2 linked regions of the Homo sapiens genome follow. The protein of the gene in region 2 purifies or fractionates together with the protein of the main gene of each other region. This does not show direct contact. Each region holds a gene or a part of one and is shown on either strand. Other genes may lie near its edges.

What was found. The genes of interacting proteins can lie anywhere in the genome.
Region 1: the proteins of EEF1A2 (region 2) and VARS1 purify together in Homo sapiens (co-immunoprecipitation; 4 studies listed by BioGRID and IntAct, with this or other methods). This does not show direct contact.

The regions. Positions count from the first base shown.
Region 1 is NC_000006.12:31,785,365-31,792,752, forward strand, and holds part of VARS1 (valine--tRNA ligase), read right to left. Parts: intron 7,153-7,388; coding exon 7,028-7,152; intron 6,941-7,027; coding exon of another isoform or gene 6,938-6,940; coding exon 6,853-6,937; intron 6,608-6,852; coding exon 6,507-6,607; intron 6,374-6,506; coding exon 6,246-6,373; intron 370-6,245; coding exon 205-369; intron 1-204. UniProt on the Homo sapiens protein: Catalyzes the attachment of valine to tRNA(Val).
Region 2 is NC_000020.11:63,488,673-63,496,448, reverse strand, and holds part of EEF1A2 (elongation factor 1-alpha 2), read left to right. Parts: intron 1-413; coding exon 414-593; intron 594-1,347; coding exon 1,348-1,644; intron 1,645-3,161; coding exon 3,162-3,312; intron 3,313-5,713; coding exon 5,714-5,970; intron 5,971-7,296; coding exon 7,297-7,531; intron 7,532-7,776. UniProt on the Homo sapiens protein: Translation elongation factor that catalyzes the GTP-dependent binding of aminoacyl-tRNA (aa-tRNA) to the A-site of ribosomes during the elongation phase of protein synthesis.

The sequences.
Region 1 (7,388 bases), on a different chromosome or scaffold from region 2:
GGCTAGAGGGAGACATCAGGTGGCTGACTGGGCAGTGTGGAGATCACCCATCCCCCTGAAATTTACCTGGGCCCTAGAGCCAACTGACTCTGCCTCTGTGGGAGGGTCTGACCCTGTGGCCAAGGGGTTACAGGTGACAGAGGTCTTCTGGATAGGGGACAGGGAGGCAGGGCTGCGATGCCCACAGGGATGCTGCATACTCACTCCTCCTTCCACTTCCAGACTTCCTGTAGAAAGGCCTCGCGGCCCAGCTGGTGCCGGCTCAGTCCCTGCTCACGCCATAGCTTCTTCTCCACCACCACCTGGGTGGCAATACCTGCATGGTCACAGCCAGGGTTCCACAGGGTGGTCTCCCCACGCATGCGGTGCCTGTTAGGGGGCATGGAGGACCAGAGGGTGAGCCAGGCCAGTGGGGCCTGGCACCAAAGAAAGCAGAGGCTTCAGGCAAGGAGTCAGTGGACTAAATAAAGAAGCAGGGAGGCCGGACGCGGTGGCTCACGCCTGTAATCCCAGAACTTTGGGAGGCTGAGGTGGGTGGATCACCTCAGGTGGGGGAGTTCGAGATGAGCCTGGCCAACATGGTAAAACCCCGTCTCTACTAAAAATACAAAATTAGCTGGGCATGGTGGCATGCGCCTGTAATCCCAGCACTTTGGGAAGCCGAGGTGGGTGGATCACCTGAGGTGGGGACTTCAAGATAAGCCTGGCCAATATGGTAAAACCCTGTCTGTATTAAAAATACAAAATTAGCTGGGCGTGGTGGCATGTGCCTGTAATCCCAGCTACTTGGAAGGCTGAGGCAGGAGAATTGCTTGAACCCGGGAAGCAGAGGTTGCAGCAAGCTGGGATCATGCCATTGCACTCCAGCCTGGGTGACAGAGTGAGACTCCGTCTCCAAAAAACAAACAAAAAAAAAAAGAAAGAAGCAGGGGTGGAGCTGGAACCCTTGTGATTCTAAAGCTAGTCAAGGAGAAAAGATTTGAAGGAAGAGCCAAGGCAATATGGAAAAAGAACAAAGACAGGCATGCGTGGTGGCTCACACCTGTAACCCCAGGACTTTGGGAGGCCAAGGCGAGTGGATCACTTGAGGACAGGAGTTCGAGACCAGCCTGACCAACATGGCAAGACCCTGTCTCTACCAAAAATATAAAAATTAGCCAGGATGGTGGTGCATACCTGTAATCCCAGCTACTTGGGAGGCTGAAGCACGAGAATCGCTTGAAGCTGGGAGGGGGAGGTTGCAGTGAGTTGAAATTGTGCCACTGCACTCCAGCCCGGATGACAGAGTGAGACTCTGTCTCAAAAAAAAAAAAAAAAAAAAAAAAAAAGAACGAAGAGGAGGCTCCTGCCAAACAGGATAGCAAAAGTTCTAATTGTTAAAATAAGTTACTAAACAGGAACAAAATAGTACCTGGAAACAGATACAAGCAAATTTAGTGTTTGTGAAAGTTGGCACTTCCTATCAGTAAAATAAGGATAAACTATTCAAAATGTTTGAAACAACTAGCTAATTATTTGGAAAAAATCTCCCCCTTACCAATAGTCACAAAAAGAAACTTTAGATAGATTAAAGAATTCAAGCCAGGCACAGTGGCTCAAGCCTATAACCCCAACACTTTGGGAGGCCAAGGTGAGAGGACTGCTTGAGCCCAGGAGTTGCAGACTAGCCTGGGCAACATAGTGAGACCTAGTCTCTGCAAAAAAAAAAAAAAAAAAGCCAGGCATGGTGGCGTGCACCTTTGTTCCCAGCTACTTGGGTGGCTGAGGTTGAGGCTGCACCAAGCTATGATTGTGCTGTGATCATGCCGATGCACTCCAATCTGGCCAACACAGTGAGAGAGACTCTGTCTCAAAAATAAATAAATAAACAAATAAATAAAAATAAAAAGTTGATATAACTCTATTCCATTAAAGTAATGGGAGTGTCTCACATTTTATTTAAACCACGTTCACTGGAAAAAAAATGTGGCTACCTTAAGAGTTTTATAAGAAGTATGTGGCCAGGCACAGTGGCTCACACCTGTAATCCCAGCACTTTGGGAGGCCGAGGCAGGCGGCTTACTTCAGGTTAGGAGTTCAAGACCAGCTTGGCCAACATGGCAAAACTCTGTCTACTAAAAATGCAAAAGAATTAGCTGGGCGTGGTGGTGCGTGCCTGTAGTCCCAGCTACTCAGGAGACTGAGACACAAGAATCGCTTGAACCCAAGTGGTTGAGGTTGCAGTGAGACGAGATCGCGTCACTGCACTCCAGCCTGGGCGACAGAGCGAGACTCTGTCTCAATTAAAAAAAAAAAAGTAGTCATTCTGTTTTCATGTAAACAAACTTGGAGGCCAGGTATGGTGGTTCATGCCTGTAGTCCCAGCACTTTGGGAGACTGAGGCAGGAGGATTGCTTGAGCCCAGAAGTTCAAGACCAGCCTGGGCAACATAGCGAGACCCTCTCTTGATTTTATTAAAAAATTGAAAAACAGGGCCGGGCGTGGTGGCTCACGCCTATAATCCCAGCACTTTGGGACGCCGAGGTACGCGAATCACGAGGTCAGGAGATCGAGACCATCTTGGCTAACACGGTGAAACCCCGTCTCTACTAAAAATACAAAAAAAATTAGCCAGGCGTGGTGGTGGGCTCCTATAGTCCCAGCTACTCAGGAGGCTGAGGCAGGAGAATGGTGTGAACCTGGGAGGAGGAGCTTGCAGTGAGCAGAGACTGCGCCACTGCACTCCAGCCTGGGTGACAGAGCAAGACCCCATTTCCAAAGAAAAAAAAAAAATTGAAAAATTGAAAAAACAAAAACGCAAACACAAACGCAAACAACTTGGCCATTGTATGTTATGTGTATTTAACAGAACTGTTGGCTGGACGAAGTGGCTCATGCCTGTCATCCTAGCACTTTGGGAGACCGAAGCGGGAGGATCACAAGGTCAGGAGCTCGAAACAAGCCTGACCAACATGGTGAAACCCCGTCTCTACTAAAAATACAAAAATTAGCCAGGTGTGGTGGCATGCGCCTGTAATCCCAGCTACTCAGAAGGCTGAGGCAGGAGAATCGCTTGAGCTCAGGAGGCAGAGGTTGCAGTAAGCGCGCATCACTGCACTCCAGCCTGGGAAACCGAGAGAGACTCTGTCTCAAAAAAACAAAAAAAACAAAAAAAAAAACAGGCCAGGCGCGGTGGGTCACGCCTGTAATCCCAGCACTTTGGGAGGCCGAGGTGAGCAGATCATGAGGTCAAGAGATCGAGACCATCCTGGCCGACAGGGTGAAACCCTGTCTCTACTAAAAAAAATACAAAAAATTAGCCAGGCGTGGTGGCGGGCGCCTGTAGTCCCAGCTACTCAGGAGGCTGAGGCAGGAGTATGCTGTGAACCTGGGAAGCAGAGCTTGCAGTGAGCCAAGATTGCGCCACCGCACTCCAGCCTGGGCGACAGAGAGAGACTCTGTCTCAAAATAATAATAATAATAATAAAAATAAAAAAATAAAACATATAACTGTTTTCCTAGCTCTCAGTTACTTGCAAAATGCACAATCAAACATTATATTCCCAGTGCTCAGAGCAGAGGTGGCACATAGTTGGGCCCAGTAAATATTTTTTGACCACATTAATTTAGTACATAAGACACCAGAAAAAATTCTCAAAATTTAAATATAATAAACCCTGGTTTCCAAAAATGGTAAAGTTATTTTAAAATACTTTTTAAAAAGATTTGTCACCTAGAATATTACTTTGTATTTATCACTAATTAAAATATTAACAGTGAAAACAAATAGTAACAGAAAACAGGAGAAACATTTACAATTAACAGGAAAACTACCACACAATAATACAACAAAAACATTTACAATATTTAACAAAAAAATTGATACCCAGAACAGGTAAAGAATTCTCAAAAAAAAAATTAAAAAGAAAAAGAACGAAGAATCAATAGAAAAACGGGGAAAAGATAGATACAGACAATTCACATATGGGTAAACCTGACTGGCCAAAAAACATGAAAATAGGCACAACTTCAATAGCAATCAGAAAGGTACAAAGTAAAACAACAGAGGTATTTTTTTGCCCATCAGATTGGCAAAACTAATTAGGCAACCCTAATGCTCAGGCTTAGCAAGGGTGGGGAAATGAACACTCTCACAGCAATTCCTGGAGGTATCAATCAGCAAAGCCATTCTGCAGGGCAACTTGGCAGCTTCCGTTTGTACTTAATATAGGTGTGCCCCTGCCGACCTAGCAGTTTCACTTCTTGATAGCTACACCAGCGAAACCCTTCCACACATGCTTCAGCAAGCATATAGAGCAGGGGTATCCAATCTTTTGGCTTCCCTGGGCCACATGGAAGAATTGTCTTGGGCCACAGATAAAATACACTAACACTGGCTGGGAGCAGTGGCTCACGCCTGTAATCCCAGCACTTTGGGAGTCCGAGGCGGGCGGATCACGAGGTCAGGAGATCGAGACCATCCTGGCTAACATGGTGAAACCCCGTCTCTACTAAAAATACAAAAAAAAAATTAGCCGGGCGTGGTGGTGGGCACCTGTAGTCCTAGCTACTTGGGAGGCTGAGGCAGGAGAATGGCGTTAACGTGGGAGGCGGAGTTTGGAGCTTGCAGTGAGCCGAGACTGTGCCACTGCACTCCAGCCTGGGTGACAGTGCAAGACCCGTCTCAAAAAATAAATAAATAAATAAATAATAAAAATAAATTTAAAAAAATACACTAACACTAACGATAGCTGATGAGCTAAAAAAAAAAAATCGCAAAAAAATTCTTAAATGTTTAAACAAAGTTTACAAATTTGTGTTAGGCTGCATTCAAAGCCGTCCTGGGCCGCATGTGGCCCACAGGCTGCAGGTTGGACAAACTTGATATACAGGGATGTGCATTAGAGTAAGGTTTTCAACAGAAAAAAAACAAAAAACAAAAAACAGAATGAATCATTAATTAAAAAGTGACTCCAGGCCGGGAGCAGTGGCTCACGCCTGTAATCCCAGCACTTTGGGAGGCCGAGGCAGGCAGATCACCTGAGGTCAGGAGTTTGAGACCAGCCTGGCCAACATGGTGAAACCCCATCTCTACTAAAAATACAAAAATTAGCCAGGCGCGGTGGCAGGTGCCTGTAATGCCAGCTACTTGGGAGGCTGAGGCAAGAGAATCGCTTGAACCTAGGAGGTGGAGGTTGCGGTGAGCCGAGATCATGCCACTGTACTCCAGCCTGAGCAAAAAGAGTGAAACTCTGTCTCAAAAAAAAAAAAAAAAAAAAAAAAAAAAAGAATGACTTCACTATGGTACAGCCACACTATGAGATATTATGGAACAATTAAAAAGAAGGAAGTCAGTATGTGTGGTATGTGTGTAAGGACAAGGAAAGATCTCCAAGAGAAAGTATTAAGTGTAAGAAGAAAGCTAGATCATAACAAGTGTAATATGAACCCTTTATGTTAAAAAATAGAAAAGACTCACCCAAAAGGAGAACTATAAATTTCTATGGGTACGTGTATATGTAAGTAAATAGGAAAGATCTGGGAAGATACACATCAAAGTGATAACAATGGCTAAATCTTAGGAGGAAGTAGGTGTGGAGGGGGATGGTCAAGGAGATTTGAAACTTTAAATTTCTTACAAGAATATATTCATATATTTTGGTCAGTTGTGGTGGCGCATTCCTGTAATCCCAGCTACTTGGGAGGCTGAGGCAGGAGAATCACTTGAACCCAGGAGGCAGCGGTTGCCATGAGCCGAGATGGCGTCACTGCACTCCGGCCTGGGCAACAGAACAAGACTCTGTCCCCCCAAAAAAAAATATATATATTCATATGTTCCTAATTAAATTCAAAATAATGTTATTGTTACTAGAAAAAGAAGGGAGAGACTGGGTGTGGTGCCTCACACCTATAATCCCAGCACTCTGGGAGTCTGAGACAGGAGAATCACTTGAGCCAGGAGTTGGAGACCAGACTGAGCAACAAAGTGAAAACTCATCTTTACAAAAAATTAAATTAAATTAAATTAAAATTAAATAAAGAAAGAAGGGATAGAAGAGAGTCTGCAAGTGGCGGTGTTGCATGGGAGTACTGGACTAGGAGAGGAAGCTAAATGATCAGATTGGAATGACAGAGAGAAGTGTAGCACCACTGGGGGCAGAAGTGAGCACCAACCCAGAAGGAGAGAGGCTCGGGGGGCTGTCAGGGAAAAGGAGAGAGCCAGACTAGGCAGAGGGAACCAGAGGAAGGTGCAGATAGAAGCTCACCATCGAGTCAGGGAGTCCTGGATGGCGTTGGTGAGTGCATGGCCCAGGTGCAGGGAGCCTGTCACATTGGGGGGTGGGATGCACATCATGAAGACACCTCGGGGATTTGCTGCTGACACATTAGGACGCTGATGGTGGAGAAGGATGGCACATGTTTAAGGCCTCAGGTCACCTCTCCCAGCCCCTCCCAGGCAACACATCCTTCAGTCCTGCCCTTCCCCACCCCACCCACTCTGGGCCTGGGCAGCAGTGCCTACTCACCCCATACTCTGGCTTGAAGAAGCCCTGCTGCTCCCACCAAGGGTACCAGGCAGCCTCCACATACCGAGGGCTGTAGGAGTCGGGCATGGGGCCACTGACATCTGGGGGAGAGGAAGGGAGGGCTCAGTGCCGTGGCTGGGAGCACTCTGGGAAGGAGACGTGCTGGCAGAGAGGGATCGGGATCTCCGTCACTCACATCATAGGACAGGCATTTGAGGGGCCTAGAGGCAGGGCAGGGGGTCTGCAATTCCTCACCAAACAAAGTGGTGAGAGCAAGAATAGAGCAAGATAGGGTGAAAACTTAGAAGGGGCTGCTGAGGGGTGAGCCCCTTCCCACTCCTAGTACCTTTCTTTTCCCCGGGTGGGGTTGGGAGGTCATAGGTAATGACCCCAGGATCCCGTTTCTCCCTCTTCTCTGGTTTTGGTTTCTTCTGCTTGGGAGGGAGAAGACATAGGCCCAGGCATCAGCCAACCCATCACCGCACACATCAACTTTCCTTCCAGCTCCACCCTCGCCTCACCTCCCCTGGAGGTGGCTGCTGCTGTTGGATCTTCTGCTTCTGTTGGAATTTCTCTAGCTTCTCCCGTTTCTTTGCCTCTTTCTTGAGCTGAGCAGCTGTCTTTGGGAGGGCAGGAGCCTCGGGGCCTAGAGAGAGGTGCAGAAATTCAGACTCAGCCAGCTGGGGACCCTCTTGGACGGCCATACTAGGTTTCAGATGGGGTATTTTAGATGCCCGAGGTCTTGCCCATGCTGACCTCCCCCCTCTCCCTCCTCTCCCGCAGGACCCTGCCCCAGTGATTCTGCCATTTCTAGGAAAAAAAGAAAGTGAGTTGCATGGAAGGCCCCAGGGAAGCCCCTATCCTCCAACTCCTCGCCCTTCC
Region 2 (7,776 bases):
TTATTTATCTGACAGCCCCAAACACGGTGGTATTATTGGCCTCTGGTTGAGGAAGGGATCTGGGGGCGTCCGCAGCTTCAGATAAAGGGGAGCCCTCGCCCGGGAGGGGTTTATCCCATCTGGCGGCTTCGCTCGTAGAGCGAGCGACTCCCAGGCCCTTGCGCCACCTGCTGGTGGACCTGCGTAGCCGCGCCCATTTCGGAGCAGGTGCGGAGGCCGGCCCTGGGGGGCAGGGTCTGGGTGTGGGGTCCCGACGGAGGGGGCCGGCGTCCCAGGACCCCGACGGAGAGCAAGGGGGTGCTGGAGCCCATCTCCCGCCTCTCGCGGCCACTCTGCTGTAACAAGCAGCTCGCACCACCAGGGACTCCTGGGTCCCGGGTCCCGCCCTCAGCCGTGACCCTCACCCGCTCCAGATGGGGAAGGGATCCTTCAAGTATGCCTGGGTGCTGGACAAGCTGAAGGCGGAGCGTGAGCGCGGCATCACCATCGACATCTCCCTCTGGAAGTTCGAGACCACCAAGTACTACATCACCATCATCGATGCCCCCGGCCACCGCGACTTCATCAAGAACATGATCACGGGTACATCCCAGGTGAGCAGGGCACAGCAGGCGGGGCTGGGGGAGAGGCCGCTGCACCCTTCAAGGGACACTGGGGGCCCCTGGGGTCACTGGGATGGTAGGGTCTCCTGTGCTTCCTGTGAGGGCAGGGGACCCCTCACCTGGGCCACCCTCACCCAGTCTGGCTCAGAGCCCCCCTAAGGATGAATCCAGTGCTCTGGCATCTGAACCAGTGCCTGTGAAGGCATCCAGCCAGTGTCAGAGTCCCCAGATAGATGGGGGCAGATGGGGACGTGGACACACCTTCATACATGGAGGGGTTGGAGGCCAGGATGGGGAGAGTGAGCAGTGGGCAGAGGTGCCACCCGCCAGGTGTAGACTGTATGACATTTCAGGGCACTCACAGAGACGCACGGACACCCCAGACACAGCACCCTGCAGACAGCAGGACACATGCCACCACCTCCAAACTGCTTTGATAACTGTGACTTCTATCCGTCCTCAAGTGAGGAACAGGAGCAGATAGGCTGAGTGACTTGTCCAGGGACACACAGCCCACTGGTGGTGGAGCCAGGGCTGAACCTCGGTCCCCTGACCCAGGGCCTGGCGATGAGCCCCCATGCTGCCCTTGAAGTGGGGACCCCCATGCCTCCCTCCCCAAGGCCCCAGTGGGCTGCTCAGGCCCCAGCCCGCTGCCTGGAGAGGCCTGGAAGTGAGGTGGGGCCAGGCTCGCTCTGTCCCCTGCCAGGCAGGCGGGGCAGGGCTCACTGTGTCCCCTGCCGGGCAGGCGGACTGCGCAGTGCTGATCGTGGCGGCGGGCGTGGGCGAGTTCGAGGCGGGCATCTCCAAGAATGGGCAGACGCGGGAGCATGCCCTGCTGGCCTACACGCTGGGTGTGAAGCAGCTCATCGTGGGCGTGAACAAAATGGACTCCACAGAGCCGGCCTACAGCGAGAAGCGCTACGACGAGATCGTCAAGGAAGTCAGCGCCTACATCAAGAAGATCGGCTACAACCCGGCCACCGTGCCCTTTGTGCCCATCTCCGGCTGGCACGGTGACAACATGCTGGAGCCCTCCCCCAACGTGAGTGGCGGCTAGGGCGGGGCGGGCCACGGGAGCTGGCTGGACCCCCTGGCCCAGAGCGAGGCACCGGCAGGTGGCACGGGGAGGTCGAGGGCCTGTCCCCGGGAAATGCAGGTTCCCCTCGAAACCTGCTGGGTTTCCCTAACTGGCTCAGGGCCCGGCGGGGAGCCCCATGCCCCTCAGCACCGGGCTTTGCTCCTACACTCAGCCTCCCACGCGGCTGGCCGGGGCCAGGGCCCATCTACGATGTCAACACAGCAGGGGCAGCGGCCTCCAGCACCAGGCCCATGTGCTTGGTCTCCAGAGCCCTGCCATGGGGGCGGTCGGTTTCATCTCTGCCAGGCCATTGTCCTGGTCCTGGACACCGTGCAGGGGCTTTGGGCTGGGCCGTGGGGGCCTCCTTGGCTGCCTCCCCTGGGATCTTGGAGCAGGGTTGGGCTTTGGGAAGTGTGCATGCTTCTGGGCTTGCTGGGATGGCCAAGGGTTGGCTCTTGGCCGGTCACCTGGGAGCTCAACGTGCGAACAGTCTGTAGCCCAGGGACTCTGCCTTGGCTGGAGGTGACGCGTGGAGACACTTGCAGAACCTGAGACTGTTCCCAGGGTTCTCCAAGCCAGAGGAGACCCCAGAATGGCCACCACTAGGCTCTGCCAGCACTGTCGCTGCCCACAGTGAGGGTGCAGGTGTGGAGTCTAGAGACAGCAGGGAGACAGACCAGCAGCACTGAGCCTGGAGCTGAGGTCTGGGGACAGAACTGGGAGGGACTCCCCCAGCTCCGCCTCCATCTCACGAGGCTCGGTGTTGTTTACCTGTGATGGCGTTTTCCTCATGGGGTATCATGTGGCGAACGCCACTCTCCCCTCCCCAGGGAGGCCTCCAGCCATCAGGGACCCTGCACTCCCCTCTGGCCTGAGCTGCTAGGTGGCTCGTGCTTACACAGGCCCTGGGGGGCTGGGGCACTGTGCTGCCGGCCCCCTCCCCTGCTCCCTGTTTGTGGCAGGTGGCCCAGAGGGAGGCTTCATGGGATGGGAGTGGGGGCCACACTAGGAGAAGCTCCGGACAAGGCTGGGCCAAGCTCGGAGGCAGCACGGTGTCCAGAAGCTAGGGTGGGGCGAGGCTCCTCCAGCTCTGTCCCTGGCCTGGCCCTTGGCCAGACTCAGCATCCTCCTAGTCAAGTCATCTGCCCTGCCTGGAGCTGATGGTCAGGGGCCCGGGGTTTCGGGGACTTGGGGCTGGACTGGGGATTTGTTCACAGTGTCAGCAACTCCTGAGCAGCCTGGGCTGGGAAGGGTGCTTTCCCTCTTTGTCCTCCTCCTTTTAAGAGGGATCTCCTTCCCAGAGTCCCTGTGATGCTGGGGCTATGGGCTGGGGAGGAGCAGGGTGGGGAAATTCCTCATCTCAAAGGGCACGAGGCAAGTTTAGCCTGAACAGCAGTACTCCTGGAAGCACCCTGGGGAGGCCTGAGGGTGGGGAGGCCACCAATGTCTCTTAACGGATTGATTTTCTCCCTTTGGTCCAGATGCCGTGGTTCAAGGGCTGGAAGGTGGAGCGTAAGGAGGGCAACGCAAGCGGCGTGTCCCTGCTGGAGGCCCTGGACACCATCCTGCCCCCCACGCGCCCCACGGACAAGCCCCTGCGCCTGCCGCTGCAGGACGTGTACAAGATTGGCGGTGAGCAAGGGCGCTGTGCTGGAGCTCCTGCCTGGCCAGCTCTGCCTGCCCTAGACCAGGGGCCCCTACAAGGCATCTCAAGACTGGGCTGTCTCCAATCTCTCCCCTTACCACACACTTTCTGTGGGACAGTCCATCCCACATCCATCCATCCATCCACCCACCTCCCCACCCATCCATCCTCTGTCCATCCATCCACCCATCCATCTATCCACCTCTCCATCCATCTATCTATCCATCCATCCATCCATCGATCCATCCATCTCCCCACCCATCCATCCTTCACTCCATCCATCCATCCATCCATTGTCCCATCCATCCTTCTCTCTATCGAACCATCCCTCCATCTCTCCATCTATCCACCTCCCCACCCATCCATCCTTCTGTCCATCAATCCATCCATCCATCCATCCATCCACCTCTCCATCCATCCATCCATCTCCCCACCCATCCATCCTTCTCTCTATCCATCCATCCATCCATCCATCCATTGATTGTCCCACCCATCCATCCTTCTCTCTATCCCTCCATCCATCCATCCATGCATCCATCCATCCATTGTCCCACCCATCCATCCTTCTCTCTATCCATCCATCCATCCTTCCATCCATCCATCCACCTCCCCACCCATCCATCCTTCTGTCCATCCATCCATCCATCCATCTCTCCATCCATCCATCCATCCATCCATTGTCTCAACCATCCATCCTTCTCTCTATCCATCCATCCATCCATCCATCCATCTACCCACCCATCCATCCTTCTCTCTATCCATCCATCTATTGACCCACCCATCCATCCTTCTATCTATCCATCCATCCATTCATCCACTCACCCACCTACCCACCCATCCATCCTTCTGTACATCCATCCATCCATCCATCCACCCACCTACCTATCCATCCATCCTTCCATCCATCCATTTATCCATCCATCCATCCATCCATCTATCCACCCACCTACCCACCCATACATCCATCCATCCACCTCCCCATCCATCCACTTCCCCATCCATCCATCCATCCATCCATCTCCCCATCCACCCATCCACCTCTCTATCCATCCATCTCCCCACCCAGCCATCCTTCCCTCCATCATCCATCCATCCATCTCATCCATCCGTTCATCTCCTCATCCATCCATCCATCCATCCATCCATCCATCCATCCATCCATCCACCTCCCCATCCGTCCGTCCATCCATCCATCCATCCATCTATCCCCCCATCCATCCATCCATCCATCCATCCATCCATCCATCTATCCATCCACCTCCCCATCCATCCATTCATCCACCCACCTTCCTACCCATCCATCCTTCTGTCCATCCACTCATCTACCTCCTCATCCATCCATCCATCCATCCATCCACCAATCCATCCATCCATCTCCCTACTCATCCATCTCCCCACCCATCCTTCTGTCCATCCACCTCCCCATCCATCTACCACCCCATTCATACATCCATCCATCCATCCACCCACCTCCCCATCCATCCGTCCATCCATCCATCCATCCCACCAAGAAGAGAAACCATAAACAAATCTGAGACCCTAGAGAAGGGCACTGATAGGAGACCCCCAGCCAGTGGGCTGCAGCCAAAGATGTTGCAGGCATCTCTGTGTGCACTGTGGGGGCATCATGCTCACCCCAGCACAGAGCACAGCCACTGGCCTCAGTGAAGTTGGCTGGAGGCTACAACAGGCCTCCCTCACAGCCCTGGGAGGTGAGGGTGGAGACCCAGTAGCCTGGGGGGGGACAAGACCCCCATGTGGCAGCTGCACAATTGGTTTAAGTAGATCCATGAGAAATGCCAGGGACGCTCATGTGCCGCTGTGCCTGTGCTGCATCTGGCTGAGAGGCCCCTTTAGTGATAGAGACCTGCAGCATCCAAGTGGGGCCCAGAGAGCCTGCAGGGAGCAGGGAGCAGGGCCTGCAGGGAGCAGGGAGCAGGGCCACCAGGCCCCAGGCAGAAGCAGTCAGTCGCCCCGCCCACACTCACAGGGAGGAGTCCTCAGACAAAGGAGGGGTCCCATAGTGCCTCCTTTGAGGGAAAGTGCTCTCCGGGGGCAAGGATGGGACCCCAGGTTCAGACAGCCCCTCTCTGCCCATCCTCCCGCTTCTCTGTCCCTGTGGCTTTTCCGTGGGTTCCTGGGAGCTCTGCTGCTCAGCCTCTTATTTCCCCAGCTGGGTGGGAGAGCCCCCACTTCCCTTGGAATCTCTGTGTCTGCCCTTGTCCCTGGCCTCCCTTCCCCTGCACTCCGCCCATGTGGCCCCAACCCCCAGGCCTGTCGGGGGGATCCAGTCCCAGGCTTTGTTGGTTTCCAGGCTCTGTCCCCGAATATCCTGCCCCAGCATCCCCTCGGGCCCCACCTTCCCCTCACACCCCCTCCCCTCTGCAGGCATTGGCACGGTGCCCGTGGGCCGGGTGGAGACCGGCATCCTGCGGCCGGGCATGGTGGTGACCTTTGCGCCAGTGAACATCACCACTGAGGTGAAGTCAGTGGAGATGCACCACGAGGCTCTGAGCGAAGCTCTGCCCGGCGACAACGTCGGCTTCAATGTGAAGAACGTGTCGGTGAAGGACATCCGGCGGGGCAACGTGTGTGGGGACAGCAAGTCTGACCCGCCGCAGGAGGCTGCTCAGTTCACCTCCCAGGTGGGGGGCTGCGCTGGGTCCAGGGGGCTGGCGCCTGCTGGACAGCAGCAGGACTGTCCTGGGTGAGGCTGCTGTCGGCAGGTGGCCTGGCGTGGGGAGAAAACCAGACCCTCAGGCTGGGCGCAGTGGTTCACGCCTGTAATCCCAGCACTTTGAGAGGCCGAGGCGGGCAGATCACGAGGTCAAGAGATCAAGTCCATCCTGGTCAACATGGTGAAACCCCGTCTCTACTAAAAATACAAAAATTAGCCAGGCGTGGTGGCACGTGCCTGTAGTCCCAGCTATCAGGAAGCTGAGGCAGGAGAATCGCTTGAACCTGGGAGGCGGAGGTTGCAGTGAGCCGAGATTGCGCCACTGCACTCCAGCCTGCGTGACAGAGCGAGACTTCGTCTCAAAAGAAAAAAAAAAAAAGAAAAGGGACCCGCATACCACCGAGGGGGCCACCGAGCACTCAACGAGGGGATCAATCAGTTCTGGGAGGGGTGCAGGCCCTGTGGCTCCCAGCCTGTGTGCAATCGCGGGTCTGTCTTCCACGCTGCACTGCTGGGATGCCCAGCCTTTGAGGTCCTACATTCGTCCTAGAAAAACGCTTTTGTTAACTTACTGTCTGAGACATCTCTGTCATACTTTTATTCTCTACAGTCTTCATTGCCCCTCTTTGCTGGCCTCTTCATATGATTTATTTATTTTTTTTTTGAGACGGAGTCTCGCTCTGTTGCCCAGGCTGGAGTGCAGTGGTGCGATCTCGGCTCACTGCAACCTCCGCCTCCCGGGTTCAAGTGATTCTCCTGCCTCAGCCTCCCAAGTAGGTAAGATTACAGGCATGTGCCACCACGCCTGGCTAATTTTTGTATTATTAGTAGATACGGGGTTTCACCATGTTGGCCAGGCCGGTCTCGAACTCCTGACCTCAAGTGATCCACGTGCGTCAGCCTCCCAAAGTACTGGGATGACAGGTGTGAGCCACCGTGCCTGGCCTCTTCATATGATTTTTAAAAGTGGCTTTATTGAGATACAACTGAAACACAGGAATTGAGGTCCAGTTTTGTCACCCCCCCGCCTTAGTTCCAGCTGGGGTTGGCCGTGTAAGTGCTGCCCCTGCCCCTTCGAAACAATGAATCTCAGTTGTTTATCTTTTGCTTAATGAGGATGTTGAGGTTCAGGTCTGGGGGCTGGGTCCTCAGAGCCTGAGCCCCCTCCAGTCAGCACTCCGGGCCCAGGAGCCCGTGCAGGGGCGCCGGTGACTGGGCCTCCCAGCCCCGCTCTGGCGCCCTCCCGGTGCCCACCGCCGATGTGCCTGATGGCCGCCTGTGGCTCCGCTCGCAGGTCATCATCCTGAACCACCCGGGGCAGATTAGCGCCGGCTACTCCCCGGTCATCGACTGCCACACAGCCCACATCGCCTGCAAGTTTGCGGAGCTGAAGGAGAAGATTGACCGGCGCTCTGGCAAGAAGCTGGAGGACAACCCCAAGTCCCTGAAGTCTGGAGACGCGGCCATCGTGGAGATGGTGCCGGGAAAGCCCATGTGTGTGGAGAGCTTCTCCCAGTACCCGCCTCTCGGTGAGCCGGGGTGGTCCGGGGAGGTGCAGCCCCCAGGCTGTGGCTGATCCAGGCTGAGGGCAGAGGACTGCGGGGATGGGGCGCTGGGGACAGCAGTGGGCCCCCTTTCCTGCGGAGCTTGGCCCAGAGCATGGCAGGAGAGCCACGGCCTCCGTGTCACTGAGTGCAGGTGACCCTGCCCAGACGAGCTGGGGTGGGCCCTGTGTGCAGACGAGGCCCCGAAAGTGAGGGAGGCCCCGCGAGTG